Linked DNA regions of Homo sapiens. The protein of the gene in region 4 purifies or fractionates together with the protein of the main gene of each other region. This does not show direct contact. Each region holds a gene or a part of one and is shown on either strand. Other genes may lie near its edges. The genes, in order: CEP57, ATP6V1D, KIF3A, TNFRSF8, EXOC1, GOLPH3L and TRAIP.

Evidence for each region.
Region 1: the proteins of TNFRSF8 (region 4) and CEP57 purify together in Homo sapiens (affinity purification with mass spectrometry; 2 studies listed by BioGRID and IntAct, with this or other methods). This does not show direct contact.
Region 2: the proteins of TNFRSF8 (region 4) and ATP6V1D purify together in Homo sapiens (affinity purification with mass spectrometry; 2 studies listed by BioGRID and IntAct, with this or other methods). This does not show direct contact.
Region 3: the proteins of TNFRSF8 (region 4) and KIF3A purify together in Homo sapiens (affinity purification with mass spectrometry; 2 studies listed by BioGRID and IntAct, with this or other methods). This does not show direct contact.
Region 5: the proteins of TNFRSF8 (region 4) and EXOC1 purify together in Homo sapiens (affinity purification with mass spectrometry; 2 studies listed by BioGRID and IntAct, with this or other methods). This does not show direct contact.
Region 6: the proteins of TNFRSF8 (region 4) and GOLPH3L purify together in Homo sapiens (affinity purification with mass spectrometry; 2 studies listed by BioGRID and IntAct, with this or other methods). This does not show direct contact.
Region 7: the proteins of TNFRSF8 (region 4) and TRAIP purify together in Homo sapiens (affinity purification with western blotting, with the first as the bait; one study listed by BioGRID). This does not show direct contact.

The regions. Positions count from the first base shown.
Region 1 is NC_000011.10:95,821,498-95,824,997, forward strand, and holds part of CEP57 (centrosomal protein of 57 kDa), read left to right. Parts: intron 1-373; coding exon 374-481; intron 482-487; exon of another isoform or gene 488-837; coding exon of another isoform or gene 838-894; intron 895-1,001; coding exon 1,002-1,079; intron 1,080-3,500. UniProt on the Homo sapiens protein: Centrosomal protein which may be required for microtubule attachment to centrosomes. May act by forming ring-like structures around microtubules. Mediates nuclear translocation and mitogenic activity of the internalized growth factor FGF2, but that of FGF1.
Region 2 is NC_000014.9:67,342,805-67,346,304, forward strand, and holds part of ATP6V1D (V-type proton ATPase subunit D), read right to left. Parts: intron 3,068-3,500; coding exon 2,964-3,067; intron 635-2,963; coding exon 568-634; intron 1-567. UniProt on the Homo sapiens protein: Subunit of the V1 complex of vacuolar(H+)-ATPase (V-ATPase), a multisubunit enzyme composed of a peripheral complex (V1) that hydrolyzes ATP and a membrane integral complex (V0) that translocates protons.
Region 3 is NC_000005.10:132,696,047-132,699,546, forward strand, and holds part of KIF3A (kinesin-like protein KIF3A), read right to left. Parts: intron 3,250-3,500; coding exon 3,125-3,249; intron 637-3,124; coding exon 588-636; 3' UTR 1-587. UniProt on the Homo sapiens protein: Microtubule-based anterograde translocator for membranous organelles. Plus end-directed microtubule sliding activity in vitro. Plays a role in primary cilia formation. Plays a role in centriole cohesion and subdistal appendage organization and function.
Region 4 is NC_000001.11:12,139,803-12,143,302, forward strand, and holds part of TNFRSF8 (tumor necrosis factor receptor superfamily member 8 isoform 1 precursor), read left to right. Parts: intron 1-2,484; coding exon 2,485-2,729; 3' UTR 2,730-3,500. UniProt on the Homo sapiens protein: Receptor for TNFSF8/CD30L. May play a role in the regulation of cellular growth and transformation of activated lymphoblasts. Regulates gene expression through activation of NF-kappa-B.
Region 5 is NC_000004.12:55,898,648-55,902,116, reverse strand, and holds part of EXOC1 (exocyst complex component 1), read right to left. Parts: intron 2,433-3,469; coding exon 2,233-2,432; intron 1,283-2,232; exon of another isoform or gene 963-1,282; intron 1-962.
Region 6 is NC_000001.11:150,662,655-150,666,154, forward strand, and holds part of GOLPH3L (Golgi phosphoprotein 3-like), read right to left. Parts: intron 1,110-3,500; coding exon 978-1,109; intron 1-977. UniProt on the Homo sapiens protein: Phosphatidylinositol-4-phosphate-binding protein that may antagonize the action of GOLPH3 which is required for the process of vesicle budding at the Golgi and anterograde transport to the plasma membrane.
Region 7 is NC_000003.12:49,830,333-49,832,564, forward strand, and holds part of TRAIP (E3 ubiquitin-protein ligase TRAIP), read right to left. Parts: intron 1,737-2,232; coding exon 1,584-1,736; intron 1-1,583. UniProt on the Homo sapiens protein: E3 ubiquitin ligase required to protect genome stability in response to replication stress.

The DNA.
Region 1 (3,500 bases), on a different chromosome or scaffold from region 4:
TTTTGTGTCTGGTAATGTAGTAGATGCCATTTTTGAAAAGAATATATTTAAGCAATGGTTTGGGGTTAGATACATTGCATTTAACTCGTTAGATAGAATTTATGGAGTAACTACAAATACTGGAGATAATGTGTTCCACGCTGAAGAAGGGACAAATTATAACAGAAGGTCAAGATAAAATGAGAGACTGGTATTTATTTAAAATATTTGACAAACGTTGATAGATTGGTTCAAGACATAGTTATACAGCTGTAATATGTTTTTCAGTTAGATACTACCATTGGTTTTTACAGGCTTTTTACATGACACATCTGAAATCTGAGTCATAGCTTTTATTTCTACAGCATTAACTTGAGGCTCTCATTTTTCCTAGTTGCAGACTGGTCTAGAAACAAATAGACTTATCTTTGAAGATAAGGCAACTCCGTGTGTTCCCAATGCAAGAAGAATTAAAAAAAAGAAGTCAAAACCACCAGAAAAGGTGTGAAGACAGAACCAAATCAGGCAAAATGCTGATTACTTGGTATAGTTTATGTCAAAACACCCATAAACTGTGTGGTGTACTACAACCTTGAGAGAGTAAATCTTTCATTCTCAATTTCTTCATTCAGAAGGTGGAGATAAGTAATACCTACTCCTAAATTTTTATCCTGATAGTGAGAAAATATATAAGCATTTTGGAACTACAGAACACCATACAAAATTAGCATTATTAGTACTGCATTATCTTGTGCTCTTACAATGTTTTGTGTATATGTATACTGATTTTCTACTTAGAATGTAACTGTTGTTTTGTCAAGTGCTTTTTTCCCCCCAGCCTTTCCTAGGCTAGGATATATGCTAACAAGTACTATTAGGAGCTGGCTTGTGATCATAATGCCAACTATAGATAAGGCAAGTAGTAGCCTAGTAGTTAACTGAAGTTTCAAGTTAGTCATGTATAGTCAGTTTTTATTATCATGTGAATAAAATAAAATTGTTTTCCTTTTCTTTTCATTCAGAAAAGTTCTAGGAACTATTTTGGTGCACAACCACATTATAGATTATGCTTGGGTGATATGCCATTTGTAGCTGGGAAGGTGAGTTGGTCAAACTCCGGATTCTTTTTATACAACATTGATCCCTGAATTAAGTCCCTGCATCTGCAAGTATGTCTACAAATGGAAGGAACATTTTTCTGTGCCTTTACCAGTGTGTGGATCACAGTGATGTGAAAATGAGATGTAGGGAGGTTTTTGGGGATTAGGGAAGCAAGGAAGAGATGGGGAGGATACCTTAAAGTAGATAAAGTATATGTGGAAAGGAAGTGATAAAACAGAGACCCTAAGTTGAAGAAGGTGTTGTTTCAGATAGGGGTCAAGGAAATAAGAAATAGTATGTTTGTAGCATTGGATTTTTAGTATCAATCCTGTTGAGTTACATTTAGATATAGGTAGATATTCGAATAAGCACGTAGCACATTCTGCTTGTCCTCACATCCAGATCATTTCTAGGACTAATTCTCCAAGAAGCAGTCATACGTACACTTGAATCTTCAGTTTCTTCAGCACTTGAATGTAAAGCTGTATTGTCATATATCAAGTACTGAGTGAAGTGCCTAAAACTGTGCTAGTTGACACTACTTTATAAGCTGTTTGTGTTGCTGGTGGTTTTATATTTAGATTCCAACTAGATTGTTATTCTGGCATCTTGGGAAGTAAATGTTCTTCTGAATTTTGTATTTGTTTATATTTATTTATTTTAAACCCCTAGTAAATTCGCAGTGAAATCATGGGGAATATAATAAATTAGTGGTGACAAGCATTTGAAAAAGGTACAGTTGACCCTTGAACAACATGAGTCCGAACTCTGTGTGGGTCTACTTACAGGCAGATTTTTTTTTTCAATAAGTATCTTGGAAAATTTTTTGGAGATTTTTGGCAATTTGAAAAAACTTGCAAACTATAGCTTAGAAATATCAGAAGTTAAGAAAAAGTTGGTATGTCATAGATGCATAAAATTGACTATGTCAATACTAGTGCATTTTATCATTTACTACCATAAAATATACACAAGTTTTTTTTAATTATAATTTATCAAAACAATTTGCACACAGACTACGTGACGCCATTCACAGTCCAGAGAAATGTAAACAGAGATAAAGATGCAGTATGAAATCATAACTGTATAAAATTAACTGTAGTACATACTGTACGACTGATAATTTTGTAGCCACCTTCTGTTGCCATTGTGATGAGCTCAAGGGTTGGGAGTATTCACTTAAAATGCCACGTGACGCTAATCATCTTCAAATGAGCAGTTCATCTCTCCAGTCAATTGTGTATCACAGTAAAAAGTGTTCTCTAGCAGTTCCATATTTTCCATCATGTTTAGCACAATACAGTAAATAATTTGAATAATATCATGGGACCCATATCAAGTGCTACTAATGATGGTGGAAGTGCTCCCAAGAAGCAGACAAAAGTCATGACATGACAAGAAAAAGTTGCATTGCTTGATATGTACCATAGATTGAGGTCTGCAGCTGCGGTTGTCCACCATTTCAAAATAAATGAATCCAGCTGAAGGCCTATTGTAAAAAAAAAAAAAAAAAAAAAAATGATCCCGGCATGTTGGCGTGCACCTGTGGTCCCAGCTACTCAGGAGGCTGACAGAAGAGGATCACTGTAGCCCAGGAGTTCGAGACTGTAGTAAGCGATGATGGCACCACTGTACTCCAGCATAGGCAACAGAGTAAGATCCTCTTTAAAAAATTTTTTTTAAAAAAAAAAGGAAATTGTGAATCTGTCACTGCAGCTACTCTAGCAGGTGCCAAAACCTTGTGCTTTTTGCAAAATAGCTTTTTATCTCATTGAAAATGCAGCTTTTATGTGGATGCAGGATTGCTATAAGAAAGGCATACTTGTAGACTCTAATATGATTTGAGAAAAAGGAAAGTCATTATATGACAACTTAAAAGGAAGGTGAGGTATCTAAAGCTGGAGAATTTAATTCCAGCAAAGGATGGCTTGATAATTTTAGAGGTTTGGCTTTAAAAATGTCAAGATAGGAGAAGCAGCTTCTGCTGACCAAGAGGCAGCAGATGAATCCCAAGATACCATTAAGAAAATCATTGAGGAGAAAGGGTATCTTCCTGAACAGGCTTTTAATGCAGACAGAAGTACCCTATTCTGGAAAAACATGATGCCACGAAGGATATTTATAAGTAAGGAGGACAAGTCAGCACCAGGATTTAAGGAAAGAGGAGACGGGCTAAATCTACTATTTTGTGAAAACACAATCCGATTTACAATCAGGACTGCCCTTATCTATAAAGCTGCTAATCCCTGAGCCTTCAAGGGGAAATATACCCAACTGCCAGTCTTTGGGTTTACAACAAGAATGACCCTTTGAGAACCCTTTTTCTAAACTGGATTTAGAAAAAACATTGATCCATCAATCCTTTGTCCCTGAAGTCAGGAAGTAATTTGCCAGTAAGAGACTGCCTTTTAAAGTCTTTT
Region 2 (3,500 bases), on a different chromosome or scaffold from region 4:
TTACTTCAAATTTTGCTTTCTTACCTAAAATTGAGTGTTTCTTTAATAAAAACTAAGTTTATTGAGCAAAAAGTACCATCAACACTAAGCAGTCATATTTTTTAAATAGTGAAATAAAAGAGATGGAAAATAAGTGCATCAAATGGGAAATTTTTTAGAAATCAAGGAGAATGGCTTATACTGATTTAAAGTTAAATATTTAATGTACTCAAAAAGTTGCATCACTCAACCATTAGAAAGAACTACAGAAAACACTAAGGATCTTGAGAAATATTCCTACCCTTAAATAACTGCATGAATAACTGGAAATGAAGAAAACATTCCATAATTTTTAAGTCACCACTTTCCTATGTGTGTAACTCCCCCAGATCATACAAGTACTTCTATCAGAACACTTCATAACACTTTTTTTTTTTACTATGGACACACTTCTCTCTTTGCACTGTGGGCAAGGGAAGCATCTTATTCATCTTTCAGTCTTCAGTACAGTCCCTGAATTCTAGCAGTTTCACGACAAGTGGAGGGTATGGACAAGTGACAAAGCACCTCACAGTACCTAATACTCACCATGTTCAATGGCATTTACACGCCTGTTGGTTATCTTAATAGCTTCATCCAAAGTAACAAAAGAAGTCTAAAATAAGAACAAATTAATAATGTAAGCACAAAGTCTTCCTAATCATTCCCTGATCACTTGACTCCACTAAGACTGCACTTGTAGAAAACATTTGAGAACCAAGACAACTTCTTTTTGGCATGCTTAAAAAACAAAATTCTTAGGCTGGGCGCATGGCTCACGCCTATAACCCCAATACTTTGGGAGGCTGAGGTGGGAGAATCACTTGAAGTTGGGAGTTCAAGACCAGCCTGGGCAACACAATGAGACCTTGCCTCTACAAGAAATAAATTTTAAAAATTAGCTGGGTGTAGTAGCATGCACCTGTAGTCCCAGCTGCTTGGTAATCTGTGATGGGAGGATCGTTTGAGGCTGCAGTGAGCTATTACTGTGCCACTGTACTCCAGCTTGGGTGACAGAGTAAGACCCTGTCTCTTCATAACAAAACAAAAACAAAATTCTTGTGAGATTTCCATAGGGCTAACACTATTTCCATGCTATTGATAACCTACATGTCACATTTGGTAGGTTTCCAAATTAACCTGCCTGGGCAGATTGAGGGATCTTATGATTCATGGTTTACATCCTGTCCCTGAGTAAGGAAATCTTAAGTTTCTCAGACTGCTGACATACTGATTAATATGCAACCTACTGACGCTGAAAATGACACTGATTTGTTTCTGATTCATGAAGTTTTACTTCATGATTTACTTGCATGTAGAACATTTTAGCTTGTATTTGTAATCTGTAGCCAATGATTGTGACCTCTGTATTGTACTCGCCAATGAAAAGGACAACTTGGGTATGAGGAGTCCTCCCTTCTCCTAAACTTTCCCATAAAAGCCTTCCAACTTGTAGCAGACTCTAGAACACACCCAACTTTGTTGGTGTCTTCCCGGGTCAATCCTCACATTTGGCTTTCAATAAACCTTTATCAAATCATTTCTGCTTCAACAGGCTTTACTTGAGTTGACACTATTATAATTTGTTTACTATAGTCTCACCTAAATAACAACATAAAAATGACAAGAAAGAATCAAGCATTAATAACCTAGATATATACTAACTGGCCACATAGGGGAAAAAATGGTCTTCCATGCACAAACGATGTTTATTTACATTTACATTTAAATCTAGTATCAACTTGCTATTCTTACTTAGCAAAGAGTGAAACTGGGCTGGGTGAGGTGGCTCACACTTATAATTCCAGCACTTTGGGAGGCTGAGATGGCAGGATTTCTTGAGGCCAGGAGTTTGAGACCAGCCTGGGCAACGTAGCAAGACCTCATCTCAACTAAAAAATTCAAAAATATTATCCAGGCGAGGTGGCACAAACTTGTAGTCCAAGCTACTTGGGAGGCTGAGGCGGGAGACTGCTTGAGCCCAGGAGATCCAGGCTGCAGTTAGCCAAGATCGCAACACTGCACTCCAGCCTGGGCAACAGAGCAAGATTCTGTCTCAAAGAAAAAAACAAACAAACAAACAAAAAAAACAAGAGTGTACCATAGCACATACATTTTGTTAACAAGAAGAAGCAGGGGCCGGGTGTGGTGGCTCATACCTATAATCCCAGCACTTTGGAAGGATGAGGCGGGCTGATTACTTGAGCCCAGGAGTTCGAGACCAGCCTGGACGACATGGTGAAACCCCACCTCTACAAAAAATACAAAAATTAGCTAGGTGTGATGGGGCATGCCTATAGTCCCAGCTACTCAGGAGGCTGAGGTGGGCGGATCACTTAAGCCCAGGAGGTTAAGGTTGCAGTGAGCTGGGATTATGCCACTGCACTCCAGCCTGGGTGACACAGTGAGACCCCATTTCGAAAAATAAATAAATTTTTAAATTAAAAGTAGGGGCCAGGTGCAGTGGCTCATGCCTGTAATCCTAGCACTTTGGGAGGCCGAGGCGGGTGGATCACCTGAAGTCAGGAGTTCGAGACCAGCCTGACAAACATGGCAAAACCCTGTCTCTACAAAAAATACAAAAGTTAGCCAGGCATGGTGGCACATGTCTGTAATCAGCTACTTGGGAGGCTGAGGCAGAAGAATCACTTGAACCCAGGAGGCAGAGGTTGCAGTGAGCCGAGGTCGCGCCATTGCACTCCAGCCTGGGCAACAAGAGTAAAACTCCATCTCAAAAAAATAAAAAATACATAAATTTTAAAAAGTAGGGACAATGGTACAAAAGCCATCACTTCAGAAATCAAAATATTATGTTTGCTTTACATAGGATCATGGGAACAGTTAAAAGTACAAAGCACAGTATATGCTGACTCAAGACCTGACTCTCCTCCACTTGACTGTTACAAATCAAACTACAGGAGTTCTCCAGGTCTTTTGCTACTTACCTGCAGAGAAGCTAGTTCCACCAGTAGTTCCACTGCTTTGGCATAATTCCTCTTTAATTTAGCCAACTGTTCCCCACCTCTGGCTAAACCAGTCAGTTCATAACCTGAAAGGACCAGTCAGACAACATTTTTAATTAGAGTAAAATATCTTCCCTATAAAATTCCCCAAAAGGAGATAATTCAGAATAATAACAAATATGGAAAGATGAATTCACTAATCTTCATTGAATGTAAACATGAAGTGCCTATCTCACTCCCCAAACACTATAGGAGCATGCTACTAAATACAGTTTCCCACAAGAATACTATTCTAAATATAACTACAAAGGAAGCTTTTAACCAACCTTCACTTCACTAGCTTGATGCCCCTTATTCCCTTTGAAAATCATACTGCCTGATGCCCAGAGTACGATGACACTCTGTGAACAGGTGACTCTCTCTAGAATGCTCTACTTCTTCGTATGAAATGTACTTAATATTCTATATGATTTAATTAAATATCACATGAAGCAAGGAAATACAAGTGCCAAAAGAAAG
Region 3 (3,500 bases), on a different chromosome or scaffold from region 4:
AAGACTGTTAAATTATAACATTTTCTACAAAACATTCATAAGATCAGTCATCTCATACTTAAAATGCAACAAATGTTAGACAATTAGAATGTGTTCAAACAGGCTGGGTGGGTGTTAGGACGGAATCATTCTTTAGATGTACAGTCCAAACATTCATATATAACAGCGCAACATAGGACAATCTGATCTGCTTCTTTCTATGTGCAAAACAGGACACAGTTTTTTTTTTTCTATTTTGAAATTCTAGTTACCTAAATATACAGTAGTTGGATAAATAGCTAATCGATTTACACATACATCTAAACTGTAACTCTCTATAGTATGAACTGTTCCCCCAACTTCCCTGCACAGTACAATTGAAGAGTAGTAGTACAACAATTTGAACAATCACCAGTTGTACAATTTTAATGTTATATTAATATATGTAGACTAAAAGTTCTTAAGCAAATTATTATTTCCAGTCTTATTCATTGATCTACAACTTCCATTAATTGAAATTATAGAGAAGTCTTCACTGTTTTAATTAAAGATTTTGTCCAGGCATGAGAATATCACTAATTTTTATTGTGACTTTAAGTCTGTAACATTTACTGCAGTAAAGAGTCAATTACAGTTTCAGGCTTTGCAGAACGCTTTCTGTTTGGAGAAGAAAAAAAGCAATCATGAATGCTTTCCTAAAAGACTGAAATGCAAACATTTAACATTATATAGAAACTATGGGGTGGCCTGTATAGTCTGGAAACAAGCCAAAATTTGACACGTTTGACCATGGTAAGTGTTCAATTAATGCTCGCCTTTTCAGGCTACGGGAAGCTAACTTAAAGTAAATGCAAGAGGATGGCAGCCCACCCCATTATGCCAGATAGTGAAGGATAGGACAGGTGATAATTTCCAAGACTAGACTAGGTCATGTGGCCAGGCCAAGTGAGCTGCATGCTTGCCAGATTTGAACTTCCTGATTATCTCTTCTGAGGTACTCAAAAGGTGCAAGTGGATTCAGAGGAAATCAGAAACAAATCATCTCAGGCAATACCTGATGCATATGTAGGGACTTATGGAAATGCTACATTAATGTATTATATTTATTGCAATTTTGCCTAGCCCATCTAACTATGTGTTTCTAACAAGGAACATCACATTGAACATATCATATAATGTAACATAGCATCAATAAACCATTTAATGCATGTATTTGTCCATGTTTATGGCTACCATTTTCTTAGGGTTTCCATGGTTATAGCAGGCCAATTCCAGTATACAGAGATGGTGAGTTTGGCTCATATAATGTTGGGCCACACGATTTTTTTAATGTTAAACTAAAAAAATGACGTATCTTAAAATGGATGTTCTGGAAAACGTATTCAAATATCATATTATTTATTCATTTGCTTTAGGGTCCATATAGTTAAAAAAAAAAAAAGTAAAATTGACAGATCTCAAGTAAATAATTCGAATTTCTGGCTTTTCCTTAGAAAAGAGAAGATCCAGGCCAGGCACGGTGGCTCATGCCTGTAATCATAACACTCTGGGAGGCTGAGGTGGGCAGATCACCTGAAGTCAGGGGTTCGAGACCAGCCTGGCCAACAGGGCAAAACCCCATCTCTAGTAAAAATACTAAAATTAACTGGGCATGGTGGCAGGTGCCAGTAATCCCAGCTACTCAGGGCACTCCAGCCTGGGCAACAGAGTGAGACTCCATCTCAAAAAAAAGAAAAGAAAAGAAAACAGAAGATCCAGAAACAATGAGCCCTCTATTTCCATAGATAACTAGGAAGAGAATAGCAGCCACTCACTTTAGACAGGACTGCTCACCACTGCCAATTTTTCTCCTACGCTGGGGACAAATGTCTTACCATTTATCATCACACTTGCACTGTCATTTTATTAAAAATGGAAAAAAAGATACATCTAAAGGGACTCATGTTTCTTAGAACTGATTTGCTTCACTACAATATGCTTGGCATGTGTTGGTATAGGAAAGTTTTTAACCCCTCACCTAAATGCTAAAGAATGTAAAAATTTGTACATTTTTAATATTCAACTGTTTGCCCAACCCTGAGTTCAACCATCCCAAATTTATAAGTGTTAAGTCATGTCTATGAGATTATGTAACACAAAGATATCAAAACCGTACAACTTCATCCCACATGTAACTTGAAAGTCCATGCACTCAAAGTAGGGAAAAAAGCAGCTTATTATTTCCTACATTTTAGGAGCCCCAGAGTCTTAAAATCAGCTTAAATAAACTGAACAGTCCTTGATGTAGGAAAGGGAAAGGAAAAAAAAATAAGCTCCAGCCCAGGACTCCCATATCCCGATTTCCCTGAGCTTATGTGATGATACACGCAGACTACCCAACAGTCAAAACCAGTGCCCAAAGGAGAGGGGGAAATGTCCAAGGAAGTTCTCCTTAGCTGGTGACTGAGGAAATCAAGGTTCTTGGGGCACCTGACAGAAAAACTAACCAGCTGAATACAATACCTTGGGAGACCAAACAGGCAAATTAATTAGCATTTCATAAGAAGAATTAGTCTAAGAATTAAGGAATTAAACCCATTATACATTTGGAAATAACAGAGTGAATTAAAAATAAATTCTATTACTCAGAAGCCTAAGAAGTTGGAAGACCTTAATTCTTTGGCCAGATTTTATTTACTCAAATTCTAATACATAAGGAATTTGATTTTTTTTTTTTTTTTTTGAGACCAAGTCTTGCTCTGTCACCCAGGCTGAAGTTCAGTGGCATGATCTCATGATCTCGGCTAACTGCAACCTCCGGCTCCTGGGTTCAAGCGATTCTCATGCCTCAGCCTCCCCAGTAGCTGGGATTACAGGCATGCGCCACCATGCCTGGTTAACTTTTGTATTTTTAGTAGAGACAGCGTTTCACTATGTTAGCCAGGCTGGTCTCAAACTCCTGACCTCAAATGATCCACCTGCCTCGGCCTCCCAAAATGCTGGGATTACAGGCGTGAGCCACTGTGCCCAGCCAGGAATTTGATTTTTAATAAATCAGCCAAAATATGTATCATGTTTTAACTAAATAAATTTTAACTTCCTGTACATGTATCTAATTAGAATACCTCAATGCCTTCGTTTTACCAGATTCAAGGACAGTCCTTACCTTCTCCCTGTCTTTGGCCTTGCTTTCCCCTTTGAAGTTCGTGGTCTTTCTAGTTTCATCAAAGACTGACGCAGACTCTCCTCAGTATAGGCAAGATACACGTGAGAAAGGTCCACCTCAAAGGGCTAAGTAAAAGAAACAAACACAAAGCACTCTTAAGGCAAAGAGTTAAAGCCAGATTTGGGGGAAGATTTAAAATACTGAATAAACTCCTTGATCAAACCCACAGAAGCTAAAACCAAAGAAATGTCTAATGACATCATCTTCTAATCCCAGTATCTAAAATGTACTTAATAAAGGTTGGTGAGTAAGAAGCCCTGACACACTATAAATTTCCTTGGACATAAAAACTGTTGCTGTTTTTCTTAAAGCTGCC
Region 4 (3,500 bases):
TTTTTGTATTTTTAGTAGAGATGGGGTTTCACTCTGTTGGCCAGGCTGGTCTGGAACTCCTGGCCTCAAGGTGATCTGCCTGCCTTGGCCTCCCAAAGTACTGGGATTATAGGCATGAGCCACCATGCCCAGCCTGGGCAGTCTTTTGTAACAAACTGAAGCTTTTGAAATGGTAGCTTTTAGTAAGTTTTATTTGAAAAGTATGTATTTTGGGAAATACCATCAAAGGCTTCTTCAGAATTCCTAAGAAGTCCTAACTGGAACTTCTGAGTCCACACTGAGTACAGTGCCTGGAATCCCAGGGGTGGGGTTCAGAGGGTGTTTGATGGGGAGGAGAAGGAAGTACCAGGCTCCCAGGCAGCTGGCTCAGGTGTGGGCTGCCCTCCCCTGGCATGGCCTGCAGGCCTTGCTGGTGAGTGGATCGGGGGCCACCTCCGCCATGGTGGAAAGGGAAGGCCTTGGAGGTTCTCTTGGGCACCCAAGACACAGGCAACCCCCTTGTCCTCCTAATGCCAGCCCAGGGTAGCGTTCCCCCTTCCCATCCAGTTCCCAAGAGGGGTCACACTGGGGTCTGTACATCGTCCCTCTTCCCCTGGGAACCAGGCAAGGGAAGAACCCCTTTCCCCCCAACTTCCTCACCTGCCCTCCCCACATAGCCAAGATGAATTCCCTGGACTCTGGAGCTCTGGGGAGGGGGCAGGAAATCCATGCAGCCCTTGGAAGCCACCCCCACAGCCTGGGGAGTAGGCAGCCTGTGATGGGGGCAGAGCCAGAGCGGGGCAGACCCCTCATGGCCGGCTCTGAAGTTTCCAGACCCCTCTTTCACTTCCGAGCTCAGTGGGAGCTGCTTCCTCACCCAGAGCAGCCAATTCCACCGCTTTGAATCCAGTTAATTCCAGATTTCCTGGGGACTCCTGCCCATTTCCCTGAGGAATGTGAGGGGACCAGCCTGTCCCCAGCTGTGGCTCCTTCTCCCTAATCCAGCACCCCCACCCTCACTTCCCTCCCACCTGACCCCACCCGCCTCTCATCTTCTCTGCCCATCCCCCTCTGGGCCTTCTCTCCCCTCCTGGGGTCTCCTCTCTCACCACCCCCGGCCCCCATCTTTTGCCCAGCCCTCTATAGGGCTCCTAGGGCTGGGAGCCCACAAGCCTGATGGAGGTGTGGGGAGTGCTGAGGCCCTGCTCTGTTTTGGGGTCTGTGGGGGCGCCCAGCCCATAGCCTGTCCCGCACTCTGGGCCTTCTCCTCTTGCTGCCGTTTGGCGCACTTCTCTCTTTCCTGGGGGTGTTCAAAACCAGAATAGAAGAACCAGCGTCATGCAATAGGGTTGAGGGTGTGGGGGACTCGAGAACCTTTTTGGGGTTCCTGAATCCGAGGGGTATAACTGCATTACCCAGAAAGGCAGGGGTCCCTGCACCCCCACCCCACCCCAGCTCTCAAGTTCCCTCTTGAGCTTCCCCATTCTGGCCTCCAGAGTCCAGCGCAGAACAGCTGGGAGCCAGCCCACCCTGAGCCAGACACCATCAGCTGGGCGGAGGCCAGGCTTCCCCACTCCCCAGCTCCTCGGGCCACTGAACCTGAGCCCCCATGTCCCCTCTATCAGAAGGCCACACCAGAAGCCCCCACATCAGACTGTGGCGAGGACCGGCCCTCCGTCCAAGCTCCCACCATGTGCTCACAGCACAGCCATGCACGCTGCAGGCAGGAGACCGGCTGTGAGCAGTAAGCCCCGAAATTCACGGCCTGAGCCAGGCTGTCTCAATCATGGGCTGCCGAGACCTATTGAGGGGGCCGGGTTTTCTGCAGGATGTGACAGGCTGGCTGAGTTTGCCCGGACCGAGGGGACTCCCAGGACACGGGACTTGCAGTAGTAGAACCAGGAATGTTCCCGGGCAAGCTGGACAAGTTGGTCACCCCGGGTTTTGGCTGCAGGCACACAGATAGGAGCAGAAAGGGCCACCAGGCGGAGTGGGTGGTTTTTTTTTGGGGGATTTCTCCTAACTACGTGGCGACCTTGGGCAGGTCATTTAACCTCTCCAGGCTTCAGATTCTTACCTGTAAATGGGAATCTTGATGGGGTCCGCCTTGCAGGAGGGCTGGGGACCCAGGAGTGGGGGTGTGGAAACTGCTCAGCTCTGCTGTTTCTGCTCGTGCTCTGGTTACCCACGGCTTTGCCTGTTTTTGTCCACAGTTTGCTTTCTGTCCCACCCTGTCCTCTTCTTCCCTACCCATCCGCAGAGATGTGCTGAGAAAATCCTAAGTACAAGTGGGCTGGTTCTTAACTCCTCAAGGCCCAGCTCCTAGCTGTTCTATTTCCTCTGAGCCCCCAGGATGCCTGTAAGGTACATCAGAGAGGCTGTGCCATCAGCCTGAAGCCACCCGGCAGGTGTACCAGCACTGGGCCTCGGCCCTTCTCTGCCTCTTTGCTCCCATCCTGGCTGGTGCTCTGGCCTCCCTCGCTCACCCATCCTTTTGCCTTGCAGAGAAAATCTACATCATGAAGGCTGACACCGTGATCGTGGGGACCGTGAAGGCTGAGCTGCCGGAGGGCCGGGGCCTGGCGGGGCCAGCAGAGCCCGAGTTGGAGGAGGAGCTGGAGGCGGACCATACCCCCCACTACCCCGAGCAGGAGACAGAACCGCCTCTGGGCAGCTGCAGCGATGTCATGCTCTCAGTGGAAGAGGAAGGGAAAGAAGACCCCTTGCCCACAGCTGCCTCTGGAAAGTGAGGCCTGGGCTGGGCTGGGGCTAGGAGGGCAGCAGGGTGGCCTCTGGGAGGCCAGGATGGCACTGTTGGCACCGAGGTTGGGGGCAGAGGCCCATCTGGCCTGAACTGAGGCTCCAGCATCTAGTGGTGGACCGGCCGGTCACTGCAGGGGTCTGGTGGTCTCTGCTTGCATCCCCAACTTAGCTGTCCCCTGACCCAGAGCCTAGGGGATCCGGGGCTTGTACAGAAGAGACAGTCCAAGGGGACTGGATCCCAGCAGTGATGTTGGTTGAGGCAGCAAACAGATGGCAGGATGGGCACTGCCGAGAACAGCATTGGTCCCAGAGCCCTGGGCATCAGACCTTAACCACCAGGCCCACAGCCCAGCGAGGGAGAGGTCGTGAGGCCAGCTCCCGGGGCCCCTGTAACCCTACTCTCCTCTCTCCCTGGACCTCAGAGGTGACACCCATTGGGCCCTTCCGGCATGCCCCCAGTTACTGTAAATGTGGCCCCCAGTGGGCATGGAGCCAGTGCCTGTGGTTGTTTCTCCAGAGTCAAAAGGGAAGTCGAGGGATGGGGCGTCGTCAGCTGGCACTGTCTCTGCTGCAGCGGCCACACTGTACTCTGCACTGGTGTGAGGGCCCCTGCCTGGACTGTGGGACCCTCCTGGTGCTGCCCACCTTCCCTGTCCTGTAGCCCCCTCGGTGGGCCCAGGGCCTAGGGCCCAGGATCAAGTCACTCATCTCAGAATGTCCCCACCAATCCCCGCCACAGCAGGCGCCTCGGGTCCCAG
Region 5 (3,469 bases), on a different chromosome or scaffold from region 4:
TTTCATGTCCCACTTTACATTTAATATTGTTTTTTCCTAAATATAAATTTTAATGGCTGCATAATATTTCACACAATGACTGAACCACAATTATTATTCATTCCTCTAGTACTAGATATTTAACATCCCACTCCCCCTTCTTTTTTTGGACTTGGCAAATCTAGTGAGACTTTAGAAAATCTACTATAAATATATTTGTCATAAATTTTTTTTGTATATAAGTATTTACCCATCTTACTGATTAAATTTCCAGGACTATAATTACTCTGTTGAAGAGCATAACTTTAAGTATTTGAAAGATTCTTCAGTATATATACAAACTGCTTCCTAGGAAAGCTCAACCAATTTATATTTCTGTCAACAGTGTATGAGGTTGCTACTTCACTATACCATCATAAGCATTATGACAATTTATAACAATAGTTGCCAGAGTAAAAAAAGTTTGTCATTTTATTTTATAATTCTTTGGCTATAAATAAGGTTAACCTGCTTTTATATGTTTAGTAGTGATTCAGCCCCTTGCCCCATTTATAAATTGGGGTCTTAGTGCTTTTCTTATTGATTTTAGTAAGATTTTTTATATTAAATATACTGACTCTGTTATATTATTGTAACTATTATTCCCAGGTCTTCTTTTATATATATACTTTTATTGACTGGCATAACTGTATTTGAGCACGATACAAAGAATTAATGCTGACAAACCCCATTCCCTCTCATTACTTTTTTCTAAAATTTTCTTAGTGATTATTCATTAAATTATCATTCTTTGAGAAGTTATTCTTAGTGCTTTAAAAATTTTGTTTTTACATAAGCTCTTAATTGGTAGACAGGAAATACATTGTTTTTCAGTATATTTGCTTTAAATTTTGTCACTTGACCAACACCAGTAATTTCAACATATCATATACAGGTGGTGATAATCTCGTCTCTGTTTTCCATATCTCTTATTTATGTTTCAGGTCTTGTTGAACTGGCTAGTGCTTCAACAACAATGCTAAATAATAAAGGATCTAACAATATTTCTGCTTTAAATTGATTTCAGAGGGAATGTCTCTAACGTTGCAGTTAAGTATCATGTAAGCTTTAGGCCTGAGATAGATCTTTTATCCAGTTAAAGGAATATTTGTCTGTTCTTAAGTTTTATAAGGAATTAGTTCTGCATTTGATTAAATGTCTTTCAAGTATTTCTTTGAATTGTTGACAGCAGATACATATTCTTTTTTTTTGTTTTGTTTTGAGACTGAGTCTTGCTCTGTCGCCCAGGCTGGAGCGCAGTGGTGTGATCTCCACTCATTGCAACCACCACCTCCTAGGATCAAGTGATTCTCCTGCCTCAGCCTCCCAAGTAGCTAGGACTACAGGAGCGTGCCACCACGCCCAGTTAATTTTTTTTTACATTTTTAGTAAAGACGGGGTTTCACCTTGTTAGCTAGGATGGTCTCGATCTTCTGACCTCGTGATCCGCCTGCCTTGGCCTCCCAAAGTGCTGGGATTACAGGTGTGAGTCACCGCGCTATTTTACTCTAACTTCAAGTTAAGAGCTTATAAAAGATAACTATATTGCAGACAAAGTTAGTTTAAAAGGTTCATTTAAGCTTTCACTATCTTGTAAAGTTCCCTAAAATCATCATTTCTTAACTTTAATTAACAGACTTACTCTGGGAAATGACTCAAGTAAGGAAAAAAAAAGAAGGGAAAGAAAAGTAAAAGGCAATGTAGAAAGCAATTTTTGGTTTTTCTTTTATCTTAATAATATTTTTGAAATTTCCACCTAGACATTGTAAACTTGGTCATTTATAAAGTAAGAAATGGGAAAGAGTAACGGCAAAGCCTAATCTAGGTTCATCCCCCAGCTTTGTAATTTATAAGCTATTATGATGTCGGGCAAGTTTTTTTACTTTCAGTTTCTTCATTTGTGAAATGGGGATAATATTATCTTAGCTTACACATCATTGTTTATAAGAATTAAAAGAAATAATGCATAATAGAATACTAGTACAATTATCATTAAAATATAGTAGATAAATAATGTATAAAAATAATGTACAGAAAGAAGAAATAAAATATATAGCATCTAGCAGTGTCTGGCACACTGGCAGCTTCAATAACTGAGTCCCCTGTGCACCAACACATGAGAAAATTTAAGATAAATGTCTGCAGGTTATTCATATGCAAACTTATGTGTATAGGTTCAAAAGTAGGAAAAATACTGAATGAAAATATATTTACATTTAGTTTTTCAAGAGGTTGTCCTAAAGAGTAAATGACATAAGACTGAAGGTGATCTGTGTATTTTTGTTTGGCTTCTTTTTTTTCTGCTTCTAGACATGAGATTTTCAATCGAGAAAGAGTTGCAAAAATATGGTGAAAGTTTTCCATCATAACCACATCCCTGGGGGTCTTCTGGCTTTCATTTGCTACTTTCTCCACTAAAACCAAAACAGAAAAAATAAAATAACATCTCTGAGTATGACCATATTTAGCTATAAACATTTATACTATTAATTTTTTTTCATTTGTAAGTTTAAGAATTAAGCACATTTCTGGACTTAATACAATATATTGTAATGGGAGTCTTCAGATCTACCTAATCATAATAAAAAGTCATCCTAAAACAGTCCCATGTGTATATGGAAATTCAGTATATAATAAAAGTAGCTTTTCAGATCAATGGAGAAATGATGAATTATTCAAAATGTGTTAGGACAACCGGCTGGACCATTTTAATATATGAAATTTAAGTTCCTACTTTACATCTTGCAGTCAAATTCTAAATTGCTAAATTATTTAAAATGTAAAAAGCAAACAAATAATACAATCATAAGTACTAAAGAAAATATAACTAATAGAAAAATAATAATTTTGCAATAGTGTGACCTTGCTAAGAATGGCCCAAAATTTAGAAGACTGTTAAGGGGAAAGATAAATAAATTGGAGATAAAATTTGAAAATTCATGTAAAGTAAAGACACCATATACAAAATCAATGAAATGCAAAATAAAATAGTGAGATAATTTATAGCCTATCAGGTTGACAAAGAATAAAAAGATTGGTAATACCTAGTAAAACCCAGCATTGGTACAGCTGTAATGCAACTGCTCATAGCACTAAACTGACATAAGCTTTCTGTATCACAATTTGGGAAAAGACTTGAGATACATAAATCCTTTGACCCAGTAATTCCATTTCTAGTAATTTACCCTAAAGAAATTATTTGACAAGTATACAAAGATAGATAAACTAAAAAAATCCTAAATGTTTATTAATAGAAGATTTGGTAAATGGATAATGACATATGGATGACTATGCAATCATTAAAAATGATTATGTTTATCTATATTAACTAACTAAGAAAGATACTAAGATTATATAGAGTCCAGCAGCTTCAAAAATAGTGTGTCAGGTATGACAACACTTTTATATTAAAGAAAGCACACATACAATATGCCCATATATAGAAGAGAGG
Region 6 (3,500 bases), about 140 Mb from region 4:
ACTTGGATGTTAAGAAATGGAGAAGTAAGGAAACAGTGTATAGTCAGAGAAGCAAGAGAATAAGATAATAACAAAGGCCAATAATGAAGAAAGTTTCAAAGTGATAAAAAGTGTCAAATGACACATATAGGTTAAAAGAGAAAAATAAATCAAAGACTGAAAAGAAGCTGGTGATACCTAAGAATGTAGTTTAAGTGGAGTGCTTAGGATGATAAAGAAGTTGTGAGTGGAAAAATTCAGTAAGAAAATGGATACAGGAGTATGGTTGGAAAGGACTTGCAGTAAATGGAAGGAAACAGAATATTATTGGAGAATAACCAGGGTTAATCAATGACTGACCTGACCCATATGAGTCCCTCTCCCTACATCATACTCTATTTCGTAATTTTTTTTTTTTAGAGACGGAGTCTTGCACTGTCCCCCAGGCTGGAGTGCAGTGGCGGGATCTTGGCTCACTGCAAGCTCCACCTTCCGGGTTCACGCCATTCTCCTGCTTCAGCCTCCCGAGTAGCTGTGACTACAGGCGCCCGCCACAATGCCCCGCTAATTTTTTTTTTAAATATTTCTCGTAGAGATGGGATTTCACCGTGTTAGCCAGGATGGTCTCAATCGCCTGACCTCATGATCCGCCCGCCTCGGCCTCTCAAAGTGCTGGGATTACAAGCGTGAGCCACTGTGCCCGGCTATTTCATAATGTTATAGCTATAGATATAGGAGGAATTTAATCAACAGCATCCTGAGTATGATTTTTCTGCATAAAAAAGGAAGACAAAACCAGGAGCTTCCTATAACTCTTTGGACTATGGATACTTTGATTTCTCCCTCTTGCAATAGGGTAATTAACCTGTTTAGACAATGGAACTGCTGAGTCAGTGATATTTATTTTATCTTACTACTCAAATCTTTCTATTCTTCCCAAATGTACTGTTGGTATTTGCCTTTCCATAAGCCATGGACGTTCACAGAGGATTCAGTACCTTTCTGTCTAGTAGTCGCTTCTTACGCATGGTCGGGGGTTCCAGATAGATTCGACCCCGCATGGCCAGCTCTATCAGGATGCCCCCTCGCAGGCCTGATGATATGCAGTCATTCCAGAAAGATGTGTACCCCTAGGAAAGGAGAAAAGAGAAGAGAAAGAATGTTTTGAGAGGAATACTGACTTCCAGCAGGCACCCTAAGAACAGGCCGCTTTGTTGTGATTCGTTTCACATCATACTACATGAACTCAAAGTATAGAGTAAGAGGATGTTTCTTTAATCCTCTTAAACACCCCCAAATATGATTTTCTGTCTGACTTCAAGATCTTTAGTGAATTTCCATGGTTTGCTGTTAGTCAATAAATGATGTGCAATTTTTTTTTTTGAGACAGGGTCTCGCTTTTTCCCCCAGGCTGAAATGCAGTGGCATGATCATGGCTCACTGCAGCCTTGACCTCCTGGGCTCAAGCAATCCTTCCACCTCAGCCTCCTGAGTAGCTGGGACTACAGGTATGTGCCACCATGCCTGGCTGTTTTTAAAAAAAATTTTTTTGTAGAGACAAGGTCTTGCTATGTTGCCTACGCTGGTCTCGAACTCCTGGCCTCAAGCTATCCTCCCACCTTGGCCTCCGAAAGTGTTGGGATTACAGACATGAGTGACTGCACCTGGTTTGACATGCAAAATTTTAATTTTTGAGGAGAATTTTGGCTTTTTTGAAGTCTGTTTCCATGACACAAAATTTCAGAGTGGGGTAAAATAAGTCAGAAAAAAGTAAAAAGCATTTGAGCTTTTAATCCTCCTAGATATGTATTAATTTGAAGTTCTTTTTTCTTTTTTTTGAGATGGAGGCTTGCTCTGTCGCCCAGGCTGGAGTGCAGTGACGTGATCTTGGCTCACTGCAACCTCCGCCTCCCAGGTTCAAGCGATTCTCCTGCCTCAGCCTCCTGAGTAGCTGGGATTACAGGTGTGCACTGCCACACCCAGCTAATTTTTGTATTTTTAGTAGAGACGGGATTTCACTATGTTGGTCAAGCTGGTCTCAAACTCCTGACCTCGTCATCCACCAGCCTCAGTCTCCCAAAGTGCTGGGAATACAGGAGTGAGCCACCGTGCCCAGCCAATTTGAAGTTCTTTTGATGGGAGGTATAATAGAAACCCACTGTCATTAAGTGCCTTGGTTATGTTACTTAAACTTTCTGAAGTACATTGTCCTCATCTATAAAATGCAGACACCAATATATATTTTCATAAGATTGTTATGAGGGTTACATGAGATACAATATATAAGAAAGCATTTAGTATAGTGCCTGGCATATAGCAGGCACTTAAAATGTTAGCTCCCCTTCCCTTTGTATAGGGAATATACGTATAAGAGAGCCACTGGTATTGTCTAACAGCAGTAACGTTTAATTACTAATGTCTATTGAATACTTATTATATACTAGATATGTGCTAATACTTATTATGTACTAGATTTGTGCTAAGCTTTTTACATGCATTATCTGATTATATCTTCACAACAACCCTATAAAGGAAGTACTACTACTACCCACACATTAAAGATGAGAAAACTAAGGCTTACAGAGGTTATACAGCATAACAGAGGTCACGAAGCTAAATAGAGAAATTTTTAAGTGGTTGTTTTTTTGGTGGTGTTTTACTGATAGATCATAGTTGTGCATATTTTGGGGTTACTTTTTTTTTTTAAGAGACAGGCGGGGTCTTGCTCCATTATCCAGGCTGAAATGCAGTGGGGCCATCATAGCTCACTGTAGACTTGAACTCCAGGGCTCAAACAATTGTCCTGCCTCAGCCTCCCAAGTAGCTCAGACTACAGGCATGAGACACTGCACCTAGCTATAATAACTATTTAAAAAATTTTTTAATTCAATTTTCCTCTTTATTGGCTTGGAAGTTATGTACTTTTAGAAGTTATCCTTGAAATTTTAACATGCATGATACATTAATTTAAAATTAACATAAAACCTAAATTTTAAATATTAATATTTTAACCACTCTTTTAGTTGTCCAGTATTTTTTTTTAGCCTCATAAATTAGATATCATCATCATCATTATTATTTTATACAGGTAGCACTTGTTTAGATTTACACAGGTGCTTACGAATTTCTTTGCTCACCGTTCCTTCCTGTATCTCAGACTTCCTTTCTGGCACCATTTTTCTTCTTCCTAAAGTAGAATTTCCTTAAGTGAAAGTCTGTTGGAGGCAGTTTCTATTTTGCTTATCTGAAATGTCTTTGTATTTCACCATCATCCTTGAAAGATAGTTTCTCTGGACATAAAATTCCAGGTTGATCATTCCAGGTTATCACATTGAAGATAGTATGCCCTCTTCTTCCAGCTTCTAATATAGCAGTGAGAAATCTATCTTTCTTATTGATTGTGGTTTTTTTGTAGGTGGTGTATCTTTTCTTTGGTCCTTTAAGATCTTCTCTTTTGGTGTTTTGCAGTTTTACTATAACATGACTGTGCATGAATTTATTTATTCTGTTTGGTATATGTT
Region 7 (2,232 bases), on a different chromosome or scaffold from region 4:
TCCAACGCTCCTCAAGTCCTCGGGCACCTCACCATGTCCCAGGCTCTATATGGGGCTGAAGAGCCCAATCAACTCACCACCCACGGGAGGAAAGCCAGTCATGCCCTGATACGAGCAAAAGAAATTTAATGAGCTCAGGCCTAGTCCTGTCTTCCCAGAGAGGGGACACTACCTCCACGAGAGCCTCAGTAAGTTAGCCTTTCAGTAAAGTAGCCCACAAAATCCTCTCAGAACACAGGGCCAAGCCATCTCCCTAGAGAGTGTGTCTAAGAAGGGCCTGGGGCAGAATAGCGCATGGCCCCAGGCCCTGGTCTCCCAATCCCAGCCCCAGAGCCAGAAACTGTATTTCCATCCAATTCCTGGGGAACCCAGCAGCTGGATACCCTCTCCTGGCATTTTCCCTGGTGGGTGAGAAGATGGTGATCTAAGGCTGGCCCTGTGGCTTCTCAAGCCATAAGGACAAGAGTGGGATCAGGGCCTGATGACTGACTCCTCTGCTCCTGCCCTAACGGCCTGTGGTAAGGCTACATGACAACCAAGGCTCCAGGAAGGACGAGCTGAGTTAGGGACTCAGAACTTCACTACCTCCTTCACTACCTCCACAGGCCATGAAGGTGGTGGAAATGTCTCTGAAAGGCCTGGCAGCCTGAAGACCCCAGGTGTCCACCTTCAACCTTTACAGCGGAAGAAGGGCAATGGGAGGAAGCCAGAGTACACAGCAGACACTGACAGGATCCCTGAGGACTACAGCCCACGGGTCCTAGGTTTGTTTCTCATTGCTACCAGGCCTCGCCCTCTACAACAGGGGTGCCCATGCCCCCTGAGGTTTGGGAGGTAGGACAGCCCAGCTGGCTTGCCCTCTTGCTCCCTTCCACCTCCACTGTCTAGCATCTCAGTTTCTTTCTCTTTCTCTTCTTTCTCTCTGTACAAAGTCTTTGAAAAAGAGGAAACCTGCCCAGCCCTTGACCAGCCTCACCTGAACAGTACCTGTATGAATGAGTATAGTCCTTGTCTCCACAGTGAATTACACTTGGCAAAGCTGGCCAAGGAGACAGCCTCCCTTTTTCTGGTCCCACCGTACCCCAGAGCAGGTTCCACCTGCCCCACTGGAATTCCAGACAGCTTCTCATGCTTGCCCCTGTGGGTCACCCCCTTGGGTGGTAAGGCCTTGGGCTCTGTGGTTTGAGATGATCCTCCCTCAGGCATGAGCCTCAGAGGCAAACATAGAAGAGGAAGTTCAGAGTCCCTCGCTCAGGACTCTGGTGGGCAGGCCTTCAAGGTATTGGGAGCACCCTCTCCAGCCCAGACCCACCCCTTCTGGCATCACTGCATTCTCTCTAACTTGCATTCCAATACGTTTGCCTTGAAAGGTGATGGTGAGGAATAATGAGAAAAGAGAAGGGGTTTGCACAGATTGAGTGCTCAGGTGAGGGAACAAGAGGTAGCTGGAACCAAAGCCATGGCCAAGCCTAGGCAACCCTCACTGCCCCATCAGCCACTCAGAGCTAACAGCACAGGGCCTGCAGAGCTGTCTTAGCTATCCCCCTACCAGCCCATGGACAGTGCCAGCGACTATCACTCACTGTGACTTCTCTAGGCAAAGTTTTTCGTAGTAACCATGCTGGGAGCTGGAGGGCCGGGCTGGGGGAGTATCCACATCAAAGGTAGCATTGAGATCAATATCATCACGGAAGGATGGCCGGCGGAGCTTCAGATTCACCTCCACAGGGGCTGGGCTGAAGGCAGAGATGACCTGGTTACTTGGGGCCACAGTGGTAACCCAGGACAACAGCTCCTGAAGCATCAGAGATAACTCAGCTCCAGGGACCTGGAGCCCACTCCTGACTCAAGGCCACCCCTCAAGAGAGCCCTACTCTCGGCCAGGCACAGTGGCTCACGCCTGTAATCCCAGCACTTTGGGAGGCCAAGGCGGGTGGATCAAGCGGTCAAGAGATCAAGACCACCCGGGCTAACATGGTGAAACCCCATCCTACTAAAAATACAAAAATTAGCTGGGTGTGGTGGCTTGTGTCTGTAGTCCCAGCTACTCGGGAGGCTGAGGCAGGAGAATTGCTTGAACTCGGGAGGCAGAGCTTGCGGTGAGCCGAGATCGCGCCACTGCACTCCAGCCTGGGCGACAGAGCAAGACTCCGTCTCAGGAAAAAAAAAAAAAAAAGTTTAAATTTAATTTAATTTAAAAAGCACACAAAACTCCATGTATAGTGCAATTAC